Regions from separate parts of the Homo sapiens genome. Here region 1 is linked to region 2. A link means that fine-mapping ties the variant in region 2 to the expression of a gene that starts in the linked region. Tissue or cell type: prefrontal cortex. Region 2 holds a variant in brackets; the other region holds the start of a gene. All regions are shown on one strand. Distances are from middle to middle.

Region 1 (8,000 bases), 26 kb after region 2:
AAGGAAGAAGCATAAGCGATAGGTTTTGGCCGTCCCCAGAAACAGGCACCCGAGCATCCCCTGTGAGAAACAGGCACCCGAGCCTCCCTGGGAGAAACAGGCACCCGAGCCTCCGTGGGAGAAAAAGAATGTGTGCGACTCACAGAGGGCTCACCTCTCTCAAGCCCATCGATGTTCTGCGTGTAGAGCCGCAGAAGCAGCCCCTTGTCATGAAGCAGCCGGAGAAAGTAGTGAGTGACGTTGGGCTTGTAGTTTCCAGGGTACAGCTCCTTGGCCAAAGTGAAAAAGGGCTTGGGGTTGTGAAAGAAGAATGGGAGTTCAAAAATGGCCTCGGGGTACGGGAGATCGTACTGCTGGAGGTTGCTGTACAGGCCACTCCCCGGCGATCTGCAGGGAGAGAAGAAAGGCTCTGAGGCCTTTGGAAGAGGACAGGGAAGTGGAATAAACTGGGCAGTGGGGAGGGCAGGAGTCAGGGGAGGGGAGCGCAGAAGGCAGGTGGGACTGTGGGCAGTACCTGAAGTCTGGAATGCCACTGGGTGTGCTGATGCCGGCCCCCACCATGACCACCACCCTCTGGCAGGCTCTGGCCCGAATCAGCTCAGCTACATCCTGCAGGGAAAGCTTCCCCTTGTCACTGCTGCCTCCACTTCCAACAACACTTGAAGCACCCACAGAAAAAGATATGGACCTTCTTCCACCTTTAATACTGACAGAAAAAAACACAGCAGCAAAGGAAACAGATAGCAACCAATCTCAGGATAGCAAGAACGAGCATGGCTCTGCCCTCTGCACCACCGCCACCCTCGAGAATGAGCATGTGTGTCTCCCCAGGCCTCTCAAAATAATCACCTTTCTTAGACGACTATTGGGGTACAACAAAAAGCAGTCATAAATCAGAAATCAAGACTTACTTGGGAGCAAAAAATTCAGGTTAATGGGAACTGTGCTCATTTCATAATTCAGTACACTCAGTAGGCACTCAACTCTGACTGACTGCAAACCTCCAAAGGGGTCTCCTAATGAAAACTGGTTAAGGAGTCAAGAAGCAAAGAGGGAAAACCCTGGTTCTAAAACCATCTCACCACCTATTAAGCGCCCCACTTCACACAGCATTTCAGACATCTATTCACTTAAGGTCGTTCCCCAAACAGCTACTGTGCTCCTACTAAACACGAACTGTTAAGAGAAGCACAAAAGGAATGAAAGTTATTATTGCTGTTGAGTGCCTGCTGAGGGCAAGGTATCACGAAGGGTGCCTGAGTACATTCCTCATTTACGTAAATAAAATGTTTGTGAGTCACTGAAAAACACATAAACGGCGTTTTACCAAATGTCTGGAACATACGTAAGATGTATGGCTTAAAGTACATGCTGCATGGTGTGAAATTCACTGGGAGTGGGGGACCCTGAGGGGCAGGCATGGGTGCAACCTGGGAGGGACACTGTGCAAAGGACACAAACAACAAATTCAGAGAGCTCAAAAATCCAAAGCCAAACTGGAGGAAGCCCATGCAATGGACTACTCCTCACACGCAGCCCTATGCCTCCTGCTTTAGGGCCAGTGGTAGCAAGGATTTTTGTTTTGTTTTGTTTTGTTTTGTTTTGAGACGGAGTCTCGCTCTGTTGCCCAGGCTGGAGTGCAGTGTCGCGATCTCGGCTCACTGCAAGCTCCGCCTCCCAGGTTCACGCCATTCTCCTGCCTCAGCCTCCCGAGTAGCTGGGACTACAGGCACCCGCCACCACGCCTGGCTAATTTCCTTGTATTTTTAGTAAAGACGGGGTTTCACTGTGTTAGCCAGGATGGTCTCGATCTCCTGACCTCGTGATCCGCCCGTCTCGGCCTTCCAAAGTGCTGGAATTACAGGCGTGAGCCACCGCGCCCGGCCGCAAGGATTTGTTTTAACAGTTTTGCAGAGTATCACAGATATTAGAATGCGCTCCACGTGTTTGTAGGTCCTGGTCCCTGCTCCATCCATAGCACCTAGAACAGAGTCTGGCACAGAATAAGAGCTCAGTCAGGGCTTCTTGGATGAACGACTGACTCTTCGGGATCTTTGTTTTTTTTTGAGACGGAGTTTTTGCTCTTTCGCCCGGGCTGGAGTGCAATGGTGCCATCTCGGCTCACTGCAACCTCTGCCTTCCGGGTTCAAGTGATTCTCCTGCCTCCGCCTCCTGAGTAGCTAGGATTACAGGCGCCCGCCACCACGCCCGGCTAATTTTTGTAATTTCAGTAGAAATGGGGTTTCACCATGTTGGCCCAGCTGGTCTCGAACTCCTGACCTCGTTATCCACCCGTCTCATCCTCCCAAAGTGCTGGGATTACAGGCGTGAGCTACCGCGCCCGGCCAACTCTTCAGGATCTATTAAACTTTTTTCTTTTTTTTTTCCCACAGGTAGATAAGAGTCTTGCTCTGTCACCCAGGCTGGAGTGCAGTGGCTCAATCATAGCTCACTGCAGCCTTGAACTCCTGGACTCAAGGGATCCTCTTGCCTTAGTCTCAGGAGTAACTGGGACAACAGGCTTGCGCCACCATGCCCGGCTAATTTTTAAATTTTTGGTAGAGATGGGGGTCTCGTTATGTTGCCCAGGCTGCTCTTGAACTCCTGGCCTCGAGCGATCCCCGTCTCAGCCTCCGAAAGTGCTGGTATTACAAGTGTGAGCTACCACTTCGAGACTCACTTTTCACCAACATTTTCAGCAGTTGTGTCAGACAGCAAGTCAATGTGCCATTATTTACTTAAATATTCATCCATTATAGGGCATCTGATACCTAACAACCATGGACCTTAAGATTTTTTCCTATGTAGCCTCAGTTCTTAGATGCAATTACTATGGAGACGGGTACGATCACATGCCAGTGGGAGTATTAACCGCACAACATTTATGAGGGATCATTAAAGCGTTAAATGCATATACTTTTGGACCTAGCAATCCCAGTACTAGGAATTTATGCAAACAGTGAGGTGCCAACAAGGTTATTCACCACAGCATGATGCACAATAACTAAAGGTTAGAACGTATTTCAATGAGGGAATGGTGAAATAAACGACAAAACCCCCATAAGTGACGTCCACAGATCAGCATAAAGACGGAGGCCCCGGTGTTGGAACGCACGTAAACTCCCAGACATGCCGCAAAGGAAACACGGCAAGGTGAGAAAGAGTGGGCGAGGTGTCGACAACGAACACGCAAGAAGTGCTTGTCCTTGCCCAAAATACCTCGAAAAGAAGAAACTGGGAGCTGCTGCCCTCGGCTGCCTCCGGAATGCCCTGGGCACCTCGGGTCTGGGAGGCCTCTGCAAGGGGCGCGCCGGGTCCAAGGGCTCACCGCGGGCCCCATGGCTGCCTCTCAGCCCCGCACTCACATCGTCCCTGCCGCCAAGCACCAGCCGACAGCCGCAGGCCTGAAACGGCCCCACGCCTCCCCCGGCCTCGACCCGTTCAACTACCCGGCCCCACAGCCGGAGGGCTGCCGCGGCGCGCCAACCCCAGAACGCCATGTTCCGCGCAGTCCAAGGAGTCCTCCGGACTCGCCCCGCCCCCGGCGCCCCGGCCCCGCCTCCGCCTCCCACCCCCGCCCCCGGCGCCCCAGCCCCGCCTCCGCCTACCGCCCCCGCCCCCGGCGCCCCGGTCCCGCCTCCGCGCCCCGCCCCCGCCTCCTTGCCGACGCCTCCGGCGCGCCCAGGTAGACGTAGAGGCGAGTAGAGGAAGTTCCCTAGTCTGGTGTCTCATCTCTCGCCCCGGAGGTCAAACCTGGAGCCAGCATTTCTGTACCCTGCGCTCACACCTTTTTCAACCCGGATGGCGGTGATAGTTAATACTTTCTGAGCGCTTTTACTATGGTCAGGCATTATATTTACACCTAATCCTCGCAAAACACTACTGGGAAGATCCTCATTTGACAGGAGCAATTCCGGGTCACAAAGGCTGACACCACAAAGCTAGTCCGTAGCGGGTTCGACCACAGGCGCCCACACTCTTTGACGCCTCAATGGCACAGCCAAGTGCGCGGGAAGTGGGCTGCAAACGCCGGAGAGTTTTGTCCGGAGCGCAGAGACGCGCTGTAACCGAGCAACCAGCGGGGCCCGCCCCCGGCCTGCTACGGCGCTCCCAGCCTGCCCCGCGCCGCTCGGCGCCGGAAGTGAGTGAGCATTTCCGGCAGCCATCCCCGCGGTGCTGACATCCCGGTTGTTCTTCTGTGCCGGGGGTCTTCCTGCTGTCATGAAGGACGTACCGGGCTTCCTACAGCAGAGCCAGAACTCCGGGCCCGGGCAGCCCGCTGTGTGGCACCGTCTGGAGGAGCTCTACACGAAGAAGTGAGCGCCGAGCAGACGGGCCCTGGGCCCCGGCGATAGAGGGAGACGGAGGGGGCAGGCGGGCGGAGGAGCGGACCCTTGATGGGCTGAGGGCGCCCAGACCCAAGTTGGGGGGAAACGGGGACGTGTAGCGACCGGCTGTGCCGGCAAGGTTTGCTGAGGAACCTTGAGTGGCAGGGTCGAGGAATAAGAGGGATGACAGACCACGAGGGCCAAGAGCTGTAGCCAGGATGTTTCGGTCTGAGATTCACTGCTTCCTTAACGGGGGACTGAGACTGAGGCTTCTGAACTCCTACCTCGGGTCTTACTAAAACGGTTCAGGAGTAGCCTTTGATTTTAGCTCTTGATTCCATCTAACAAGCAAACACACTTTCAGGGCCACCACCCACTTTGGGAAACATGTTGGTGATTCGTGCTTAGCCTTGTCATAGTGTAACTGTATCTACAGTTATCTTTCTCATGGTCTGGAGTTGATAAACCAGAGGCTAGTACAGCTTTGCTGTTTTCCCTATTCATTCTGCAGCTGGTTGCACGGGGTGCAACCACTTCCGCCGTCCCATTGTCTTTACCTTCCATTGTATTTCTCATGGGCTTTCTGCCCCTAGAAAGATCTTAAAGTTTAGGTTTGTTTAGAAACAGGATGAATTGCAGAGCAATTAAATTCTTGCTAAGCACTAACCTCCTTTTAATATGAGTAGAATAAATTGCTGGCATTGGGCTGGAGCTATTCCATAGAAAATACATCTCCTGTAGTAACCTCCCTGTTAACCCTAGCATTTAATATAATACCTTTCACATAGATGTTCCATACATGTTTTGATGATGTTTAGCATTCAGCAGCCTTCTGCTATTAGCAGTTTTTGAGAGCAAATTAATGTTTGGCAAATAATGGTTTGTGTTGGATAGCACTTGGTAATTTTCAAAGCATTTTATCTGCGTTATTAAATATTAGCCTTTGGGTTTTGGATGAAGCGCTATGTCACTGTCCCTGAGGTTTTAAATATTAGCTTATTTAATCCTTTATTCATCCTTTTCACAGAGGAGGAAACTGAAGCTCATTTTAATTGCCTTCCCTGAGATACTCAGCTAATAGGTAGAAGAGCCAGCATCTCAAGTTAGATATGTATGATTCCAAAGTTCTCGTTTCCAGTGAAACCTCACAATAACCCTTTGAGTTAATCTAGATTAATGTTCTCCATTTCATACCTGGGAAAACTGAGTCTTAGAGAAGTTAAGTGATCTCAAAGTGACATAGCCATTCAATAGCAGAGCCAGGAAAAGAACTCAGGTTTATCACATCTGCTTTAGCATTCTTTCTGCTACACCGTAGAGACTGGTTAGTATGGATTTAGTATCCCTTATCAGAAATGCATTGGGGCGGCCGGGCGCAGTGGCTCATGCCTGTAATCCCTGCTACTCGGGAGGCTGAGGCAGGAGAATCACTTGATCCTGGGAGGCAGAGGTTGCAGTGAGCCGAGATGGCGCCACTGCACTACAGCCTGGGCAACAGAGTCAGACTCTGTCTCAAAAAAGAAAGAAAGAAATGCATTGGGGCAAAAGTTTTTTTGGATTTAGTATTTTTTCAAATTTTGAAATATTTGCGATATATACTTACCCGTTCAGTATCCATAAATCAAAAATCTGAAATCTGAGATGCTCCAGTGGTCATTTCCTTTGAGCCCTATGTTGGTGCTCAAAAAGTTTTGGATTTTGGAGCATTTTGAATTTTGGAGTTTTGGAGTTTTGGATTAGAGATACCCAACCTGTATTTGTGACTTGATAGAATCATCAAGGCTGGAGGTGTCTGTGACTGGATATTAGGTTAGAGGTCTTAAGGGCTGTATGTTTTTCAGGTTGTGGCATCAGCTGACACTTCAGGTGCTTGATTTTGTGCAGGATCCGTGCTTTGCCCAAGGAGATGGTCTCATTAAGGTAAATAATTTGCTATACCAGATTAGATTATATGAATGTGCTCAAGGACTTTTGAAAATAAGATAGGCTTTATGCTAATAATAATAATAAGCTCCAATATTCAGCAGTCACTTTACGTCAGGTACTGGTCTGAGCGCTTCACATATCCTTCATGACAACGCTGGTCAGTAGATACTACTATCTCACTTTTTTGATGTAGAAGCAAACATAAGACTTTAAGTAACTTACCATAGATCACTGCTGATAAGTGGCAGAAGAGGATTCAAACACTGACATTCTGGCTTTTTTTGAAATTCTAGCATAAAGTATTATCTTACAACATGCCTAAGTATCTTAGTTCATAGGCTTCTTTTTAGTACTCTAGTTTTAGAAACAAAGTTCAAACCCAGTTAGAGGGTGGAGTAAGGTATGAGGAAGATTACTATCTGTGGGAATCTTAGATAACTTCCATCACTCCCCTTCTTTAAGCCGCACTGCTTGCTTGCCCAGACACTTCTGTCCTGGGTAGTGTGGAAAATAAAACACCTTTTGTACTTCGGTTGAGGGTAGGTGGATTGGAGGGAGAGTCCTGTATAGTGTCATGCTGCCTCTGTAATAGAGGACTTTTAGAATTTTTTCAGCAGTAGACAAATACGCACCTTCTTTCCCAGCCTTCCCCAGATCCCCTGACACATCCCCACGAATTTGCTCACTGGTAGCCTCCTCTTTGAAGTTTTTCCTGACATCTTACTCTATGATGGCTTTCTCTGATTCTGAATGAATCAGAGATTCATACCAGCATTGCAACTGATAGCTTATAATTACATTTTGAGTCATTTCTCCTGAATACATTACTTTTATATGCTCGCAATAGAGCTTACCACCTTGCTACCCCACCACCTGGGCTTGTAAGATTTTCTTGTGGTTTATAGCCATCAATTTGACATTTTACTATTCAGAGGAACTTACAATCATCTGTAAGCCTGGAGATTTTGCTGAACATTCAGTCTTCTGGATTATGTGGGAAAATGATAAATGAGACCTGCTTTTTTTTTTTTTTTTTTTTTTTTTTTGACGGAGTTTCGCTCTTGTTGCCCGGGCTGGAGTGCAATGGTGCGATCTTGGCTCACTGCAACTTCCACCTCCCGAGTTCAAGCGATTCTTCTGCCTCAGCGTCCCAAGTAGCTGGGATTACAGGTGCCCACCACCACAGCCAGCTGATTTTTGTATTTCTTAGTAGAGATGGGGTTTCACCAGTGTTGGCCAGGCTGGTCTCAGACTCCTGACCTCAGGTGATCTGCCTGCCTTGGCCTCCCAGAGTGCTGGGATTATAGGCAGGAGCCACTGTGCCTGGCCTGAGACCTGTCTTAATACTTGTTCCCTAAGGTTCTAAATCATCACGATAGATGATTCATAATTGTTTATCTCTGTCCTTTGGTTTCTTATCTTTAAATCACTTTTCTACACATGACAAAATATTTCCTCAACCTCATGGTAAGGTGATGTTTATTTAGGTTGGCAGATCTGAGTTTACTTTTCCCATAGACAGAATAAACCTTTAAAATTTGTTGGGATCCAGCTAGCATAAGTGTAAAATGGATAGTATTTTTGAATTTATAGTCACCAGAAGTAATTTTGACTTTCTGGACTTAGTGGGCTTCTTTTTTAAGGTAATTTTTTAGATTAATACATGTCAGGAAAGTTCAAACATTTCCTTCTAATAAGGAAGATATCTTTGAAATAGTCTTTTGTAATAAAAATGCCATTTTATTT
Region 2 (8,000 bases):
TCACCCCAGCTGGGCCAGAGGCAGGCGCACGCGGCTCTACAGGCAGCGGCGTCGGTTTCGGCCCGGCCCTGCCCCCAACGGCTCCGCTCTCCCGCGCTCACCCCGAGCCCAGTCCGCCATCGTGCCCTGCCCCGGCTCCTCGACGCGGACACCGACGCGGCCACAGCCGCCTCAGACGTGGCGCAGTCGCGGGGAAAGAGCTTCCGGCCCCGCCCCCAGCTAGCGATGGCCCCGCCTCCGCACCGACCACGCCCCTAGATAGCCCAGCCCCTTCCGCTTCGGGCTCGCTGACTTCCGGCTTAGGGCCGAGGGTGGGGAACTGCCGGGCGCGGAAGCGATGGGCATATCTGTGGCTTATTTTCAGCACTGTCGCGCAGACAGTGGCGCGATCTCAGCTCACTGCAGCCCCCGCCTGCCGGGCTCCCAAGGTGCTGGGATTACAGCAGCACCGCGGATGTGACGTTTGGTGTTCCTGTGAACGTGGGGCGGGGCGGGGCCGTTTGCTTGCTCAGTGCCTAGACGATGGTGGTGGAAAGACGCTTCTGTGGGTTAGGTCCTAACGGTTAGGAAGGATTCACAGGCGGGTCATGAGGAAGGAGCAGACCCCTCGGGCAGAAGCCCGCGAGGAGCACTGGGTGTGGTGGGGGCAGGGGTGCCTCCTCTGTCAAGTGGAGATCGGCGCCTCGCTCGTGCCTGCGAGTGCGCGCCGCGTCGAATACAGCCGTACAGAACGCACTACAGGAAAGTGAAGCCGGGAGAGAGACTGGGAGGCGGCGCGGGGACTGGGGGCCGTAGACGCCTTTGCTCCCGGGCACTTGTTAGAAGAGCGAGTGGATCGCGCTTCCTGTGCGTCACTGAATCCTCATGACGGCCACTGAAACGGACACGCAGGATCTTTGCTTTTCAAGAGGGAACTGAGTCCAGGCCAGACTGGGTTGCTCCCCTTTCTCTCGGCCCCTCCACCTTTGCAAGTGCTGCTCCTTCTGCCTGGAGTGGCTCCTCCAGTCTTTTCCCGGCTCACTTCCCACCGTCCGGTGTCAGCAAAAACAGCACTTCCTCACAGCCCGTTGCAGCCCAGCAGTCGCCTTTTGCTTCTTTTGAAGCACAGCCCTGTGACCGCCTCGTGTCCTTTTGTTTTTCCTTGTCCCCCTTCCCCTCTGGAACATAAGCTCCACAAAGGCAGGGACCTGGGAATCCCGTTCGCCTGCATTCCCCAGCAAACGCCTAACGAACCCAATGGCCCAGGACTGAAAATTCCTTTCCACTTCGGCTTTCCCCTCTACATCCCATCGGTTCTGTGGAGCTCGAGGGGCGTCACTGTGTGTGTGGCAGGGCACGGTGGGGGCTGAGATCGTTTCCTGTTGGAACTTCTGGCCCAAGAAGCGCGGGTCACAAGGAGAGGGGTCAGTTCGGTTCAGAGCGACTCAGCCCCTCGACTCGGGTCTTAAAACCTCCGAGCCGCCAGTTCTGCCTCAGGCCGCGCCCCCTTAAAGCGCCACCAGACGCTGCGCCCCGTTAAAGCGCCACCAGACGCCGCGCCCCGTCCCGGCCTCCCCCGCGCGCTGGCGCGGGGCTTTCTGGGCCAGGGCGGGGCCGGCGAACTGCGGCCCGGAACGGCTGAGGAAGGGCCCGTCCCGCCTTCCCCGGCGCGCCATGGAGCCCCGGGCGGTTGCAGAAGCCGTGGAGACGGGTGAGGAGGATGTGATTATGGAAGCTCTGCGGTCATACAACCAGGAGGTAAGCGGCCGCCTGAGGCCGGGGGGCGGGCACGGAGGGGGTGGGGCAGGGTCGTGCGCGGGTAGCAGGGAGGGCGTGGGTGAGGCAGAGGCTGTGTCAGCAAGCGTAGGGGACGCGGCGGGGTGCGGGGGGCAGGTCTGGGATGCAGTGTTGCGGGGAGAGTGGGGGTGCACCCGTTGGGTGGCAGGCGTGTAGGGATGGGGGCGAGTGCCGACCCTGCCATCCGTTCTGAGCAGTGGCTGCTGCCTGAGTTAGAGGCCAATAGGCCGCCCGCATCAGCGGACGCGGATCCTACCCCTCTGTGGATTTGAATTCACTAGTTCTCTCTGCAGCACTCCCAGAGCTTCACGTTTGATGATGCCCAACAGGAGGACCGGAAGGTGGGTGCTGGCCCAAGGGGTAAAGGGGCAGGGACGGGTGGCCCCAGGAAGAAGGGCCTGGTGGAGCCGCTCTTCTCCCTGCCCACAGAGACTGGCGGAGCTGCTGGTCTCCGTCCTGGAACAGGGCTTGCCACCCTCCCACCGTGTCATCTGGCTGCAGAGTGTCCGAATCCTGTCCCGGGACCGCAACTGCCTGGACCCGTTCACCAGCCGCCAGAGCCTGCAGGCACTAGCCTGCTATGCTGACATCTCTGTCTCTGAGGGGTCCGTCCCAGAGTCCGCAGACATGGATGTTGTACTGGAGTCCCTCAAGTGCCTGTGCAACCTCGTGCTCAGCAGCCCTGTGGCACAGATGCTGGCAGCAGAGGCCCGCCTAGTGGTGAAGCTCACAGAGCGTGTGGGGCTGTACCGTGAGAGGAGCTTCCCCCACGATGTCCAGTTCTTTGACTTGCGGCTCCTCTTCCTGCTAACGGCACTCCGCACCGATGTGCGCCAGCAGCTGTTTCAGGAGCTGAAAGGAGTGCGCCTGCTAACTGACACACTGGAGCTGACGCTGGGGGTGACTCCTGAAGGGAACCCCCCACCCACGCTCCTTCCTTCCCAAGAGACTGAGCGGGCCATGGAGATCCTCAAAGTGCTCTTCAACATCACCCTGGACTCCATCAAGGGGGAGGTGGACGAGGTGAGCACTGACCTTAACCCATGGATGGGTCTCAACTCAGCTCCAACATTTCCTGGACCTGCTTCCTACTGGGTACCTTCAGGTTTCTGGGTGTCAGACATGGAGAGGACAGGACCTCCCAGCCTGTTGGGACAAGGCCAAGGAGATGCCAGTTCTGGGCTGGGACCTCAGGAAAGGCTTCTGAGGGAAGTAGAGGCCCCTTCTGGCTCTTGCTGCCTGGCAGGAGGGCTGTGTGGTGTCTGGGGAGACTGTAAGAGATCCTCCACCATGAGGCTGTGAGTGGGGCTGAGACAGAGTGTGACTTCATCCCTAAGGTATGTGTTAGCATTCCTAATCAGGGAAGTGCTCTTAGAAGAATACTCATGGAGTTTTTAGGAAGACAGCAGTGGTCATCTTTTGCCCCCAGCACTACCCAGAGTCACCTAGGAAGACCCCAGGGGACCAGGTATGCAGTACAGGAGGTGCACAGTCATTGCCACACAGTCCTGGAGTGCAACAGACAGTGGAGCCTCAGCAGGCAGCAGTGGGATGAGTGGGGCTCCTCACAGGAACCCTTCTTTCTTTGGTCAGGAAGACGCTGCCCTTTACCGACACCTGGGGACCCTTCTCCGGCACTGTGTGATGATCGCTACTGCTGGAGACCGCACAGAGGAGTTCCACGGGTGAGAATGGGGCTTTTTCTGGGAGGGAAGTGTGCCCACATGTCTAGATGGTCGTCCTCAACCCCGGCTCTGAACCAGAACCACCTGAGAGCCCAGGCCCCACCCTAGAGAGTCTGACGTTGTCTGGGTGAGTGAGACTGGACATAGCCATGAATTTGGGGGCAGGAATGTGCCAACTGGGCCTTGGGTAGTGGCAACAGTATGGTACTTACTAGGGCACATTGGTTCCTTGTCCCCGTTTTTGGTCTACCTGCCCCTAGGCTGGTCTGGGTTTCCAGAGATGGTCTGGCGCTTTGGCTCAGACAGGGTCGGGGAGGCAGTGTGTCTCAGTGCCCCCACTTCCCCAGGGGAC[C/T]CCACTGTACAGCTGAGTGGCAGTGCCTCTCAGATCAGTCCCTGCCCTTGGCTTTGGTCCCTAGCGCTGCCCCTTTGGGACTCAGATGCCAGCTCATGTAATGTGTGGTTCAGCGGAGTCACAAAGATTGCACCTGTGCTCAGGGATTAGCCCTGTTGAAACCCCTACCTCCATCTGTCCCCAGCCACGCAGTGAACCTCCTGGGGAACTTGCCCCTCAAGTGTCTGGATGTTCTCCTCACCCTGGAGCCACATGGAGACTCCACGGAGTTCATGGGAGTGAATATGGATGTGATTCGTGCCCTCCTCATCTTCCTAGAGAAGCGTTTGCACAAGGTAGGCTGGGGATGGCTGTGCAGGCTCCCCCAGTGGCTCTGGCACTGGTTCTCCTGCACAGATGTGGTCAGTGCTTCCACACTGTCCACACTGGTACGTGGAGATTGTCTTGGTGGTGTGATATGGGCGACTCTTCCGGTTGTTCTGTGGTCCAGCCTGGCAAGAAGCCAGACCCTTCCTCCATGAGAAGCATGTGGACACCTTCCACACACTTGAAGGTTTCACTTCTTAAATCTTTGGGGATCTTTACTGAGTGGTCCAGAGAAGCCCCCCAGTCCCTACTTTTAAGTCTTAAACACAGGCAGCCCTTGATTACAAGCATAGTTGTCCCTCAGCATCCTGAGGAGACCCATAGGAACCTCAGATCAAAGCTTCCTTCTGATTGCTGTGACTGCACTACAGGGCATCTGGACAGCTGGGGCTCTAACCATCTTCCAGGAGCTTGCAGAAAGCAGGCTGGAGTACAATAAACCGAGATTTAGTAGACCTCCTGGGAATCTACCTGCCTAAGCAAGGGACACACAAGGTGCCTGCGAGCCAGTCAGGATAGGGAGCTGGCACTGGACACACAGCTAGGGGGTTGTCTGTGCCCGTCGCTGCCACTGCTGGTGCTGGGGTCCAGGCACATTATGCTAGGAGGGTCAAGAACTCCCTGCTCTGTCCACGAAGTACACAGAGCGGGGATTCGGTTCTCGTTTCTTTTTGCCACCAACATCTGAGGGCAATGTGTGTGCGAGTCTAAAGCTTTAATTGCTTTGTGTTTTCTTCCCAGCTCTGGTTTATAGTTGAAGTAATTAGACTTAAAGCAGTTATTTCTCCCAAGTCACAAAGCTTACGAGTACCTCTGAGTTACGCTCTATCCCTGTCCTTTTCAAAAGTGACACAGACACCCACCACCCACTCTTGGCCTTCTGCTGACTAACTGCAGAGGGGCCTCTTCCCAAACCTCTGCCGCCAGGACCAGCTGTTGTGTATGTTGGTGGGAAGGGGTGGTGGGGAGGTGTAACTCTGTGCCAGTCACAAGTTAGGCAGGGGCATAGCCCCAGTGACAGAGAATCCTCTACAGACACACAGGCTGAAGGAGAGTGTAGCTCCCGTGCTGAGCGTGCTGACTGAATGTGCCCGGATGCACCGCCCAGCCAGGAAGTTCCTGAAGGCCCAGGTATAAGGCTGAGGAGCTGGTGCTCCTGGGGGATGTGGTTTCGGCCCTGATCACAGACCCTTGGCTGCTCTAAGCCCAAGCTTAGGGATGGCCACCTCCCCAGGTGCTGCCCCCTCTGCGGGATGTGAGGACACGGCCTGAGGTTGGGGAGATGCTGCGGAACAAGCTTGTCCGCCTCATGACACACCTGGACACAGATGTGAAGAGGGTGGCTGCCGAGTTCTTGTTTGTCCTGTGCTCTGAGAGTGGTGAGTTATGGAGACCCAGGTCCCAGCCCACCCCACCTCAGCCAGGCTTGCACACTGACCTCTGCCTTGCCCCTCAGTGCCCCGATTCATCAAGTACACAGGCTATGGGAATGCTGCTGGCCTTCTGGCTGCCAGGGGCCTCATGGCAGGAGGCCGGCCCGAGGGCCAGTACTCAGAGGATGAGGACACAGACACAGATGAGTACAAGGAAGCCAAAGCCAGGTGTGTACCCCCAACACACCCTCGGGTCTCCACTCACAGCCCCATAGTCCCTGCTTCCACACCCATGTGGACCCCTGTAGGGTGGGACAGGATGACAAATGGGCAAGAGCTTCCAGAATCAAGCACCTGTTCCTAAGTGCTATCTGGGATACCAGAAGGTGGCAGATGGCAGGAGCTGGTTACCTGTGCCGCTTCTGGAGGGAGGCCTCTTCCTGCAGTTGCCTTGCCCACCTCACCCCACTGGGAAAATAGGTGGCTTGCCTCCTGTCCTGGAGAGTCACTAATGCATTCCCCACATTCCACCCACTGGGAAACAGCATAAACCCTGTGACCGGGAGGGTGGAGGAGAAGCCGCCTAACCCTATGGAGGGCATGACAGAGGAGCAGAAGGAGCACGAGGCCATGAAGCTGGTGACCATGTTTGACAAGCTCTCCAGGTGTGTGGCATGAGGAGGAGGGGCCTGCAGCTGGGAGAAGGGAGAGCTGACCCACATCCTGTCTTGTGAGCCCCAGGAGGTAGGATCAGAGGAGAGCTTAGGATCCTGGTATTAGGTTGCATTGCTCACGTTTGAAATCACTTGCCCTGGAGGAAATCCCCCAGGGGATGGGTATATTGAGATCAGTATTGTGCCCCTTTTACAGATGATAACTGAGGCCCAGAGAAATTAAGAGACTGTCTAAGGCCGGGCGTGGTAGCTCACGCCTATAATCCCAGCACTTTGGGAGACTGAGGCAGGTAGATCACAAGGTCAGGAGATCGAGACCATCCTGGCCAACATGGTGAAACCCCATCTCTGCTAAAATACAAAAAAAAAGTTAGCTGGGCGTGGTGGTGGGCGCCTGTAGTCCCAGCTGCTCGGGAGGTTGAGGCAGGGGAATCACTTGAACCCAGGAGGCAGAGCTTGCAGTGAGCTGACATTGTGCCACCGCACTCCAGCCTGGCAACAGAGTGAGACTTCGTCTCAAAAAAAAAAAAGAGACTAATGTCGCCAGATTTATTGGAGATGGCCCAGTGTCCAAATTAAGAGCCTGCTTAAGGCCAATTTAGATGTTTAAAATAGGAAACTGCTTAAAGCCAGGAGGCAGCAGTTAGGGTTTGGGCCCAGTTAACAGAAGGTCCAACCAGGCTTCCCCAGTAAATGGGAGCAGCCTACTTGGTAGAGAGGAAGGTAGCAGCCACGGGTGAGTAGGACCCCTGCCTGGCCAACTGGGCCCCTTCCCCAGCCCCACTGCACCTTTCCCCAACAGGAACAGAGTCATCCAGCCAATGGGGATGAGTCCCCGGGGTCATCTTACGTCCCTGCAGGATGCCATGTGCGAGACTATGGAGCAGCAGCTCTCCTCGGACCCTGACTCGGACCCTGACTGAGGATGGCAGCTCTTCTGCTCCCCCATCAGGACTGGTGCTGCTTCCAGAGACTTCCTTGGGGTTGCAACCTGGGGAAGCCACATCCCACTGGATCCACACCCGCCCCCACTTCTCCATCTTAGAAACCCCTTCTCTTGACTCCCGTTCTGTTCATGATTTGCCTCTGGTCCAGTTTCTCATCTCTGGACTGCAACGGTCTTCTTGTGCTAGAACTCAGGCTCAGCCTCGAATTCCACAGACGAAGTACTTTCTTTTGTCTGCGCCAAGAGGAATGTGTTCAGAAGCTGCTGCCTGAGGGCAGGGCCTACCTGGGCACACAGAAGAGCATATGGGAGGGCAGGGGTTTGGGTGTGGGTGCACACAAAGCAAGCACCATCTGGGATTGGCACACTGGCAGAGCCAGTGTGTTGGGGTATGTGCTGCACTTCCCAGGGAGAAAACCTGTCAGAACTTTCCATACGAGTATATCAGAACACACCCTTCCAAGGTATGTATGCTCTGTTGTTCCTGTCCTGTCTTCACTGAGCGCAGGGCTGGAGGCCTCTTAGACATTCTCCTTGGTCCTCGTTCAGCTGCCCACTGTAGTATCCACAGTGCCCGAGTTCTCGCTGGTTTTGGCAATTAAACCTCCTTCCTACTGGTTTAGACTACACTTACAACAAGGAAAATGCCCCTCGTGTGACCATAGATTGAGATTTATACCACATACCACACATAGCCACAGAAACATCATCTTGAAATAAAGAAGAGTTTTGGACAAAAATGTATGTGTAAATTATCAAATAAAGGGGCCAGGCACAGTGGCTCATGCCTGTAATCCCAGCACTTTGGGAGGCCGAGGTGGGTGGATC

Which allele goes with the higher level. Alleles are on the strand shown, and positions count from the first base shown. SD is a standard deviation of normalised expression in the study named.
With allele C in place of T in region 2, the expression in prefrontal cortex of the gene that starts at base 3,514 in region 1 is higher (small effect, 0.30 SD a copy in GTEx).

What was found. PIP is the estimated chance that this variant, and not a neighbour inherited with it, causes the effect.
Region 1: it holds the start of SIRT3, and the variant in region 2 is fine-mapped to the expression of SIRT3 in prefrontal cortex (GTEx, PIP above 0.99).

Annotation. Positions count from the first base shown.
Region 1 is chr11:232,829-240,828 of GRCh38, forward strand. SIRT3 (sirtuin 3) reads right to left here and starts at 3,514. Exons shown (of 7, transcript NM_012239.6): 1 at 3,220-3,514; 2 at 515-706; 3 at 155-387. The coding sequence starts at 3,500. PSMD13 (proteasome 26S subunit, non-ATPase 13) reads left to right here and starts at 4,148. Exons shown (of 13, transcript NM_002817.4): 1 at 4,148-4,316; 2 at 6,170-6,248. The coding sequence starts at 4,222. RefSeq lists a silencer at 3,580-3,659 and enhancers at 3,810-3,999, 4,160-4,399.
Region 2 is chr11:207,202-215,201 of GRCh38, forward strand. It overlaps BET1L (Bet1 golgi vesicular membrane trafficking protein like), which reads right to left and starts at 198. Exons shown (of 4, transcript NM_001098787.2): 1 at 102-198. The coding sequence starts at 120. RIC8A (RIC8 guanine nucleotide exchange factor A) reads left to right here and starts at 507. Exons shown (of 10, transcript NM_001286134.2): 1 at 507-1,737; 2 at 2,070-2,117; 3 at 2,206-2,799; 4 at 3,370-3,461; 5 at 3,998-4,148; 6 at 5,215-5,310; 7 at 5,414-5,558; 8 at 5,636-5,780; 9 at 6,098-6,217; 10 at 7,029-7,912. The coding sequence starts at 1,654. The coding sequence ends at 7,149. It overlaps SIRT3 (sirtuin 3), which reads right to left. Exons shown (of 7, transcript NM_012239.6): 7 at 7,829-8,000. MIR6743 (microRNA 6743) reads left to right here and starts at 2,135; the gene lies at 2,135-2,205. RefSeq lists silencers at 40-159, 1,221-1,419, 1,420-1,709, 1,780-1,889 and enhancers at 472-1,093, 949-1,118, 1,094-1,713, 1,788-2,375. The variant C/T (reference allele first, on the strand shown) is at 3,814.